2 separate regions of the Homo sapiens genome follow, and region 2 is linked to region 1. Evidence: fine-mapped expression QTL. A gene starts in region 1. The other region holds a variant in brackets. All regions are shown on one strand. Distances are from middle to middle.

Region 1 (5,387 bases):
TTAAATCATTTCATCAAAAAGACATCTGAGCCAGGCACACTGGCTCACACCTGTAATCCCAGCACTTTGGGAAGCCAAGGCGGAGTATCACTTGAGCCCAGGTGTTCTACACCAGCTAGACGCCATTAAAAAAAAAGAAAAAAATCTGTGCTCATATGTTTATCACAGCACCGTTCACAATAGCAAAGTCATGAAATCAACCTAAGTGTCCATCAACAACTGAATGGGTAAAGAAAATGTAGTATGTATTAATATACATTGTGGAATATTATGCAGCTATAAACAGAATGAAATCCTGTCCTTTGCAGCAACATGGATGGAGCCTGGAGGCTATTTATCAAGTGAAACAATTCAGAAACAGAAAATCAAATACCACATGCTCTCACTGGTAAGACAAGTGGGTACAATGGGTACACAGAGGCATAAAGATAAATGGGTACAATAAGTACCCACAGACATAAAGATGGAAATAAACAGACACTGGGGGCTCCAGAAGGAGGAGAGAAGGGCTGAAAAATTACCTATCAAGTACAATGTTACACTATCACGTACAAAGGTATATTATTTGGGTGAGAGGTTCACTAGAAGCCCAAACCTCACCATTATGCAATATATCCATGTTAATTACGTGCATATGTACCCCCAAATCTAAAATTAAATTAAAATTTTGTTTAAAAAACTCCTCCTCTAGGCTTCAAGATAAAGTTTGAATATTAATAGTTATTCAAGCAAGAAGTCACAGGACAAAATAAAAGTTAGAAGACCTAGTCAACAAGTGTGGCTTTAATTATGGTCTCTATGTAAATGACTTACAACTTGAAATCTCTAGCCCAGCCTTCTCCTTCAATCTTCAAAACCAAACTCATAATCTTAAGACTCACCCAACCAATTCCACCACCCACTCACAGCCACCACCTCCACCATAAATCTGGCCATATCTTAATATTGGCACAACCATTCAAACAATAACCTAACACCTGGCTACTTCACCTTTCACATCCCATCCGTTATTAAGTATGATGATTTTGCCTCTTAAATATCTCTCAAATCAGTCCACTTTTCCCTGTATCCACCAACACTTCCCTATTCCAAACTTTCATCATCTTTTGCCGGGCAATGCTGCAATGGTCTCCTAATTTATGCCCTTGACCTATGGCTACTGCTCCCCATCCCACCTTGCTATCACAGCTGTTCCACACTCTGCTATACACCTGACCTTTCTGAAACACCTAACTTATCATACATCCCCTCGTTTCAAATATTTTCTTCAACTCCCCAAAGCTCCAGAGATAAAGCCCCTAAATCCTTGGCATAGCACACAAAGCCTTGCAGTCTGTGCTCAAACCACGTTGGCTTCTGGGTCCTGGAAAATGCCATGCTCTCTCTCATCAACAGTACCTTTTCATGTGTTTTTCCCTCAGCTAGACGGCTCTTTCCCTCCCCTTTGCCTGATTAACCTTAAACTGTCTTCAGATATCAGCTCTATCATAACCTCCTCAAGAAGGCTTTCCCAACTTCACTGACAAGGCCAGATTATCTTACTTTATGCTTTCATAGAATATTAGCACATATATTAGTTTCACTTTATGTGATCATCTGAAATCTGTCTGCCTCCCTGTCTAGACCATGAACACAAGGAAGGCAGAGACCAAAAATGTTTGGGTTCACCAAGCTTTCCTTAGCACCCAGCACAATGTGTGGCACATGGTGAATTCTAATAATACATGTTCAATGAATTAAGTACCCCCTGGAATATTCACCAGACAAAACAACAACTACTGCTCATTAGTGACAAAACTCTACACCTTCACTGTCTGTGATGATGGAACTGTTCCATTATCTGCTCTGTCCAACATGGTAGCCACTAGCCTAGTGTGGCTGCTGAGCACTTGAAAACCGGTAAGAACAGACGCATGGAATTTTTCATTTAATTTATTTTTAACTCTTACTCAAAACTATAATAGTTTTCTCTTTAAGATGTAAAAAGCCACACGTGGCCAGTGGCTACTGTACTGAGCAGGGCAGGTCTTGCTCCTCGAAAAGCAGTAAGTTAAAAAAAGGGGGGTAAGGGCAGCAAATTAAATGGAGAGTTATTTTCAAAATGATCTTCGGGGGTCTACCATGAAATCGGCTTTCTCCATTGTGTATTATCTGTGCTTTGTAGTTTTGCAGACTGTTTGGAGCCGCATCACAAGCCTCCTGCATTCCAAGCCCCTCCTATCGGCTGGGGAACCCCTTTATTGCTACAAATGATGGTCCAGGGGAGGAAAACCCGCGGGGAGCCTCTCCAGACTAAGTGATCGCGCGGTGTACATTATCCACATTACTCCCTCAGGGGAGTCCTGCAATTCAGTCAAGCTCATCTGTTCACTGTCTCCCCAACAAGATGCTCCCCAGGCAACCACTCGCTCCGGTCCTACACCGCCTTTTCCCTCCTTCAAGGCTCGACACACCCGTGGTCCTCTCTCAGCGTTTCTCACGGGGAATGCAGGCTCCCCTGAACGTCTACGGGAGTTCAAAAGGCCCAGGACCCACCGAGGGGGAGGAAACGAGAAGTCTTTGCCACAAAGCCTGGGAGACGCGGAGCAGCCGGCCGGCACCTGGGCTGGAGTCTGGGCCGCCTACTAGCCTCAGCTGCGCGCGTTTTCTCCGTCAGGCGGCGTGACCTGCGGGCGGGCGGAGCGCTCGGGGCCCAGCCTCCACCCCCAACTCGCCGCGGCTCCACACCCCTCCCCGGCCCGCCTCACCTTCTCCAGGGAGGTCCGCTCGCCCTCCGAGTAGCGGTGCTGCGGGGGCGACAGCGGAGGCAAAATCCTGCCGGGGTGCGCCTGCAGCCAGGCCTTGGCCTCCTCGTCCTCCTCGTCGTCTATACTTTCCAGATGCTGGGGCCCGTAGTGAGAGTCGGAGTCCAACTCCCGCCCCGCCTCTTCCTCCACCTCCTCCACGACCACTACGTCGTCCACGTTCGCCGCCGCCGCCGCTGCAGCCTCCTCCTCTTCCTCCTCCTCCTCCTCCTCCTCCTCCTCCTCCTCCTCCAGCTCGCCCGGCCATGGCAGATCCTCGGGCTCCATGTTGGTGTCTCGCTCTGGGCGGCAGAGGAGGAGGAGGAGGGGGGGAGGGAGGGGAAGGGGAGAGCCCTGACTGGCGGTTGTGGCCCAGCTTAGGCGCAGTGCCGCCCGCCTGGGCGGGGCCGGAAGACCGCGCGCGCGTTGCTAGGGACGCCGCGCGAGGCCCGGCGGGAACGCCTTAGGGCGGAGGTTTGCTACAGGCGACGTTGCCGCCTCGCCGCCGTCACCGGCCGGGACCTTGCGAACTGTACTGTAAGCTCACAATAAACCGGGACTGGGCGCCTTCCGGGGCGCAGAGGGCCCCGCGCAAGGACAGTGTAGTTCTCGGCTGGGGTCGAGTTTCGCCCCTGCACAGAGAAGAGATCAAACTCTAGGACGTACCCGTTATAATCACACATGCAAATTATAAAGTTTTAAAGGTTGAGTATCTCCTAAAGTGTCAAGCTGTATGGTGGGCGCTTGAACCTAACCGTGGAAAAGTGTCACGGGTTGTTAGAGGGATTAAGAACTGGGCACTGGCATCAGAAAGATCGGAGTTTGAATCCTGGCATCACCACTTAAAGTGGTGTGACTTTGTGTTTATAAAACGATGATAATAGGCCATCGCATAGGATGGGTGTGATAATTAAAGGAAATAATCAATGTGAAGGACTTAGTGATAGGTTGGTTATTGTACAATAACTCATTAGATGCTCACGGTTCTGTGAGACAAGTATTACTATTTCATGTATGAAGAATCTGAGGCTAAAAAAATTAATTTGCCCAAAGTTTCTTACCTAGTAAGTGGCTGACTCAGTATGCCATCCCAGGTCCTCTGTTAGTGTAGGAATTGCCCTGGCCTAGACCAACCAGCTGTTAAAGGATAACAGAGCAAATATTTATACTGATAGTACATATGTTTTGGTGGTTCGTCAATGACTTTGGAGTGCTTTAAAAACAAAGATTTCCTGACCGCTTCAGGAACCTCTACGAAATGAATGGCAAATTAAAGTATCTTAAGATGCCATGTAACCAGACACCACCTGTACCCCCAATAACCTATGGGGAAAATTTTTAAATTAAAATTTTAAATAATAATTATAATCTTGAGATGCTTCACTGTTACCAAAGGAAATAGCCATAATTAAAGTGGAGTCCAGCAAAAAGTCTTCATGGTATTACCCACAATAGTAGAGATACATTGATAATGATGCTGAACCAATGTTGGTGGGGCAATTTTAGGGTTATTGCCAAGGATGTATGTCCTGCCTACCTGTCAATGACCCAATCCTGGCAAAACTTTAAGGGTAGAACATGAACTGGAGCCCAGTCTTGGAGTTCTGTTGAACACCTCTAAATGGACTATGAGTACATTAGGGTTATTTATTCTTAAGGGGTTTAGGGGTTCTCCTTGCCGGAGACCTATTACTGTAATAGTAGAAAAGAATTTATTAATTTTGTATTCCTGAATGTGAAATCTCAATGTTTATCTCCAGTAAGAGGACACACATTTCACTGATATTAAATAACTGTAAAGCTTTACCTTTTTAGAAACTCCGCTATCTTTTTGCATCCACAAATTTCAGGAAAGATAAAGAGAACTAATAGAATTCTAAAAAATAGCTTTCAAAGTTCTCTAACTTCCATCTAACTTCCAAAGCCCAAAGTACTTCTATTTGCCTTGATGGCAATAAGGTCAGTCCATTCTAAGGCCCATAAGTTATCTCCTTCTGAGTTAATAACAGGCTTCCTCATGTATTTGTGAATTACTTCCAATACTAGATGCTACTAATATAAGCTGTTATCACTAATTGCTGCAGGAGACTTCTAAGATTAACTCCTGCTTTATCAACAACAGATGGAAGCTGCATTCTCAAAGCACCCACCTAAGCAGCTTCTGAAGTTAGAGATTTGGTCTTCTGAAAAAGCATTAGAAAACAATTTCCCTTGAGCCTCAATGCAAGAAAAAAAAATGTCAGGTACTATCAACAACTGACCCAGGAGTAAAACTAGAAGACATTGATCCCTGGATTCATATTACACAACTAAAAAGACATGCATCATTTTCTCCTGGCTACCGGACATCCCATACTATTGGAAGACCTCAAACTGAAGATTCCTGGGACTTCCCCAGAAGCTGCTTACTGCAGAAATGGGCAGTTTATACCCAAGACAACAGGACAAGATTAATTTCTGATTCCTTGGCATCTCTTACCCTACCACTAATCTTGCTTATTGCATTTTGACACCCTTGATTAACTAACAAATTGATTTCTCGGGGAGATAACCCTTATCTTCATCCTGTTACTTTTGACTCCCTATGTTCTACTACTTAAAGTA
Region 2 (5,387 bases), 180 kb before region 1:
TTTATATTAAACTGATTTACTTTACCAAAATTTAACTAAATATTTAGGTTGTTTCCAATAGTTTATTCTTCCAAAGCATGCTGCAGTGAACATTTGTTTGTGCGTTTATGTGTAGCTTCATTTTATTTTTCTAGGTACAACTTTATCTGTGTATCTGTTATTCCCTTAAATGGAAGTCTGGGTGAAAAGGGAATATTTATTTCAACATTAGTTAGATATCATCCAATTGTTCCACACTTTCAAAAATGTTGCAACAAATTTGCACTTCTAATAATAGTCTTATAAGAGTACATGAATGTTTCCCCATGTACTCAACAATACTAAGGATAATCAAATCTTTTCATCTGTGCTATTGTGACAGGTAAAACAAAATTTGTGGCTTAGTACATTCTTTATTAAGACAGTTAAGTATTTCTTCATATCTTTAATGGCCATTTGCATTTCTTTTACTATAAGCTTTTTGTTCAGGTCCTTTGTTTTCCTTTTAGGCTGTCATTGATTTGTAAAAAGCTCTTTGCATAGTAAGAAAATTAGCCCCTTTTCTCAGTTTCTCAATTTTTTAAAATTGTTTTCCCATTATTCATTTATAAATTGATTTTGCATTATGATATTTTCTACCATGAAGACACTTTAATTTTAATATATACATTTATCAAATCTTTGGCTTTATGACTCCAAGATTTTGTCAGACCTTGAAAGCCTTCTTCTGCTCAAATTTATTAGAAAAGTCAGAAAACCAGAACTTTTATGATCTCTTTTTTATACTTGGATCTTTTATACTTGCATTTTGGTGACAGGAGTAAAGTAGGGCTACAACTTAAAATTCTCACGATACTCTAAATGGCTAGCAAAGCATCTTGGCATTATTTGTTGAGTAATCCATCTTTTTACAAATGGATCTGAAATGGCACCTTTATCATAGAGTAAGTGCCCACTGTATTTAAGTATTTTCACTGATGTATCAGTCTCTTGTCCCAGTAGCATCCTTTTACTATTATCACTGTATAATTCATTTAAATACCCTGTAAATTGTAATACTGTGATATAATAAATACATATTTTGCCTTAACCCTAGCTCCTGGCCAGAACTACTAAAACTCTTGTAATTTCCATTTAGGAAAACGGGATAACAGCAATAGGGGCATCTTTTATTATGACATTTGGTTTTTGTACTTGGTTCTTGAAACAGTTCAAGAGCGAGTGATAAAGGTTCAAGGAGGGTCTGTTATTCAAAACAAGTCACTTCTGATTGCACTTGAGTTTACATTAATGAGGTGAATTTTGGAAAGCCCCTTAGGATGGGGGGCCTGTTTACCAAGGGAACAACCATATGTTTAGAGGGCTGGAACTTCCAGCCCCAACCCCTGATCTCTGGGGAGGGGACAGGGACTGCAGGTTGAGCCAATCACCAATGGCCAATGATTTAATCAATATTGCCTATGTAATGGCACCTCCATAAAAACCCTAACAGACAGAGTTTGAAGAGCTTCACATCTGGTGAACACAGGAGAAGCTGGGAGGATGGCAGGCCCAGAGAGGACATGGAAGCTCTGTGCACCTTCCCTATACCTTGCCCATGTATCTCTTCATTTGGTTGTTCGTGCGTATCCTTTGAAATATCCTTCATAAAAAATCAGGAAATGTAAGAAAATGTTCCCTAAGTTTTCTGAGCCATTCGAGCAAATTACCAAACCTGAGGAGGGGGTCATGGGATTCTCCCCACCACCCCAATTTGGAGCTAGTTGGTCAGAAGTATAGGAGGCCAAGCCATGCAATTGGTATCTGAAGTGGTGGGCAGTCTTGTGGGACTGAACCCATAACCTGTGGGGACTGTGCTAAGTACAGGTTGTCAGTGTCAGAACTGCTTAACGTGAGGGGAAACCCCACACATTAGGTGTGAATACAGTAGTCCCCCTTATCTGTGGTTTTGCTTTCTAAGGTTTCATTTACCCATAGTCAACCATGGTCCAAAAATATTTAATGGAAAATTCCAGAAACAATTCATGATTTTTAAATTGCACGTCGTTGTGAGTAGTATGATGAAATCTCTTGTCATCCTGCTCCATCCCACCCTAGGATGTGAATCCTCCCTTTATCCAGCATGTCCGTACATTTACACTACCTGCCCCTTAGGCACTTCATAGCTGTCTGGGTTATCAGGGTGACTGTCATGATACTGCAGTGCCTGTGTTCAAGTAACCCTAACTGTAGTTAGTAATGGCCCCAAAG[T/C]GCAAGAGCAGTAACGCCAGCAAATTGGTTATGCCAAAGAGAAGCTGTAAAGTGTTTTCTTTAAGAAGATGAAATTTCTTATTTATCATTTATCTATCCACCTGTTTTAATGTCAGAATGCATTAATTTTTTAAAATAAACTTTTAATTTTAGAATAATTTGGATTTACAGAAAAACGGTGACAACAGTACAGATGATTACCTATACCCCATACCCAGTTTCCCCTATTAACACCTTACATTAATACAATATATTACCATGAATCAATCAATAAAGTTACATTATTATTAACCAAAGGCCATACTTTGTGTTGCCTTGTTTTGTACATACTGTTCTTTTTCTGTTCCAGGATTCTATCCAAGACACCACATTACATTTAATTATCATGTCTCCTTAGGCTTCTCTTAGGTCTGTGAGAATTTCTTAGGCATCCCTTGTTTTTCATGACTCTGACAGTTTTGAGAAGTACTGGTCAAGTATAAATGTCCTTCATTTGAGTTTGTCTCATGTTTTTCTCATTAGACTGGGGTTATGGGTTTTTGGGAAGAAGATTTCAAAGTTAAAATATATTTCTCATTACATATTAAGGGTACATACTATCAACATGACTTACCACTATTGATGATGATCTTGATGACCCGGCTGAGCCAGTGTTTGCCAGAATTCTTCACTATATAGTTATTCTTTTTCCCCCTTCCTATAAAAATACACTCTTTGGAAGGAAGTTAAGTTACTATGTGCAACCCATTAGTTAAGAGTGGGAGTTATGTTCCACCTCCCTGATGGTGGAATATCTACATACATTATTTAGAATTCTGCACAGATTTGTCATTTCCCCCCATTTATTTATTAAATCATTTACTTTTATCAGTACAGACTCATAGGTATTTATTTTATACTTTGGTTATGATCTAATACTATTGCTATACTACAGAAACTGTCCCAGCTTTAGCCACTGGGAAGTTTTTTACTTGGTCCCTGTGTTCCATTGACATATTCCCCATCCCTGTGCATTTTTTTTTCTTTACTTTCTGGCACCACAAAAGGGTTCAGGCTCATCTAATATATCTCCTGTCCCAGTCTGAGAATCAGGCATTTTGCCAAGGAATCCTGGACATTTGTAATTGTGGGTCTCATTTCTGTTTCTTGTTGTTGATACTGTTTCTACTAATAGTGCCTTGACTATGAGCTTGGTATTTTAGGGAATTTAGGGTATTTTAGGTCTGGGTTGAAGTTTCTTCAGAGAGATGTGCATTTGCATCCGAAAGGCATGTGAGTCTGCAATACCAACCTACTGCCATTGTTAAATTCTCGGCTTGAGATTTTTCAGAACACACCTGTAGTTTACTGCACTAATAAATTATACCAGTACAAAATTAATGACTGTAAATCTGTGTGAACACTAGTTTGTGGTTATAAATTCTGAGGATAAATTTTGTCTTCTTTCCCCAAACTCATTATCAAGGTTAAAACAGGCAGTTTTCTTACTGTCCCCTTCTACATGGACGTGTTTATCTTTTATTCTTATAGTAAGAGTGTAGCCCACTGGAGGCCTACTTTACATGGGAATTTCCTTTAACATTTTTCATTATGGGCGGGCCCTAAGTTTCATGTTATGTCCCCAACTTAATGGTCCCATTTGTATGAAAGTCCAGAATAGGGAAATCTACTGAGACAAAAAGTGGATCAGTATTTGCTTAAGTCTCAGGGTTTCTTTTTTGAAGTGAAGAAAATATTCTAAAATTGATTATGGTGATGGTTGATTGCACTTATCTGTGAATACAGTAAAAATCATTGAATTACATGTTTGATTTTTTTTTTTTTTTTTTTTTTGAGACGGAGTCTTGCTCTGTCGTTTGGACTGAAGTGCAGTGGCGCGATCTTGGCTCACTGTCGCCTCTGCCTCCCAGGTTCAAGTGATTCTCCTGCCTCAGCCTCCTGAATAGCTGGGATTATCGGCATGCACCGCCATGCCCGGCTATATTTTGTATTTTCAGTAGAGACGGGGTTTCGCCATGTTGACCATGCTGGTCTTGAACTCCTGATCTCAAGTGATCCACCCACCCTAGCTTCCCAAAGTGCTGGGATTATAGACATGAGCCACTGTGCCCAGCCTTACATATTTTAAATGGGTAAATTATATCTGAATAAAGCTGTATGAAAAAATTTTCTATGGTCTTTTGGAAAGGGTTTTTTTTTTAAGTTTAACCCATATAGGCTTATGCATGCATGCACACACACAGACACACACACACAGCCACACACACCCCACATCAACCTCATTACTTGTATTATTCCCAGGTGTTTTTAAACTTCACTTACAAAAAAAATTTTCATCTCCACGATCTGTCATAAGCTAATTATGTGTGTTCAAGCTCCCCAGTATTATTTTGTATTTGTCCATTTCTCTTTGAAGATTTCCTAGGGTTGTCTGTTTTATTTTTTTTCTCCCTACAAGCAAATTCCACCGTCCAATCCCCCTGTTAAGCACCTTTTGCCTCACAATCCATCCTAAGAGTTGTTTTCATATAATTCCATACCTTCATTTTTTATTTTTATTTTTTTTTTTTTTTTTTGAGATGGAGTCTCGCTCTGTCACCCAGGCTGGAGTGCAGTGGCGTGATCTCGGCTCACTGCAAGCTCTGCCGCCCAGGTTCATGCCATTCTCCTGCCTCAGCCTCCTGAGTAGCTGGGACTACAGGCGCCTGCCACCACGCCCGGCTAATTTTTTTGTATTTTTAGTAGAGACGGGGTTCCACCATGTTAGCCAGAATGGTCTTGATCTCCTGACCTCTTAATCCGCCCGCCTCAGCCTCCCAAAGTGTTGGAATTACAGGCGTGAGCCACCGCACCCTGCCCTCCTTCATTCTTTTTTAAGGCAACATAAATTTCCTTATTGATTGAGCTCCTGGTTTTCGTTTTATGAATTTTTTATGCTAAGTTATTTGATGTTTAAAGATTTATGCAAAATATCCTCATTGTGGATTGCAAATCAGTATAAAAATATACCTCTTCAATTCCTGCAAAACTTTTGGTGAATTTAACCTCATCTATATTAATGTCCCCAAATTTCTTTTTGATACATCTCTAAGTTTTCTTTTTGCTTTCCACCTTTCTCAGTAATTTTACTTTTGATATGTTTGTTATATAGCATGGAA

What was found. PIP is the estimated chance that this variant, and not a neighbour inherited with it, causes the effect.
Region 2: its variant is the best candidate, but not a certain one, in a credible set for the expression of ALMS1 in blood mononuclear cells (TOPMed, PIP 0.83).

What each region holds. Positions count from the first base shown.
Region 1 is chr2:73,383,553-73,388,939 of GRCh38, reverse strand. It overlaps ALMS1 (ALMS1 centrosome and basal body associated protein), which reads right to left and starts at 3,104. Exons shown (of 23, transcript NM_001378454.1): 1 at 2,748-3,104. The coding sequence starts at 3,071. LOC105374804 (a long non-coding RNA gene) reads left to right here and starts at 3,259. Exons shown (of 4, transcript XR_007087053.1): 1 at 3,259-3,487. RefSeq lists enhancers at 2,316-2,555, 2,596-3,345 and silencers at 2,616-2,785, 2,946-3,345.
Region 2 is chr2:73,563,141-73,568,527 of GRCh38, reverse strand. All of the region lies in intron 15 of ALMS1 (ALMS1 centrosome and basal body associated protein), which reads right to left. Among named protein-coding and RNA genes, the nearest start is that of NAT8, 77 kb to the left of the region's middle. The variant T/C (reference allele first, on the strand shown) is at 2,230.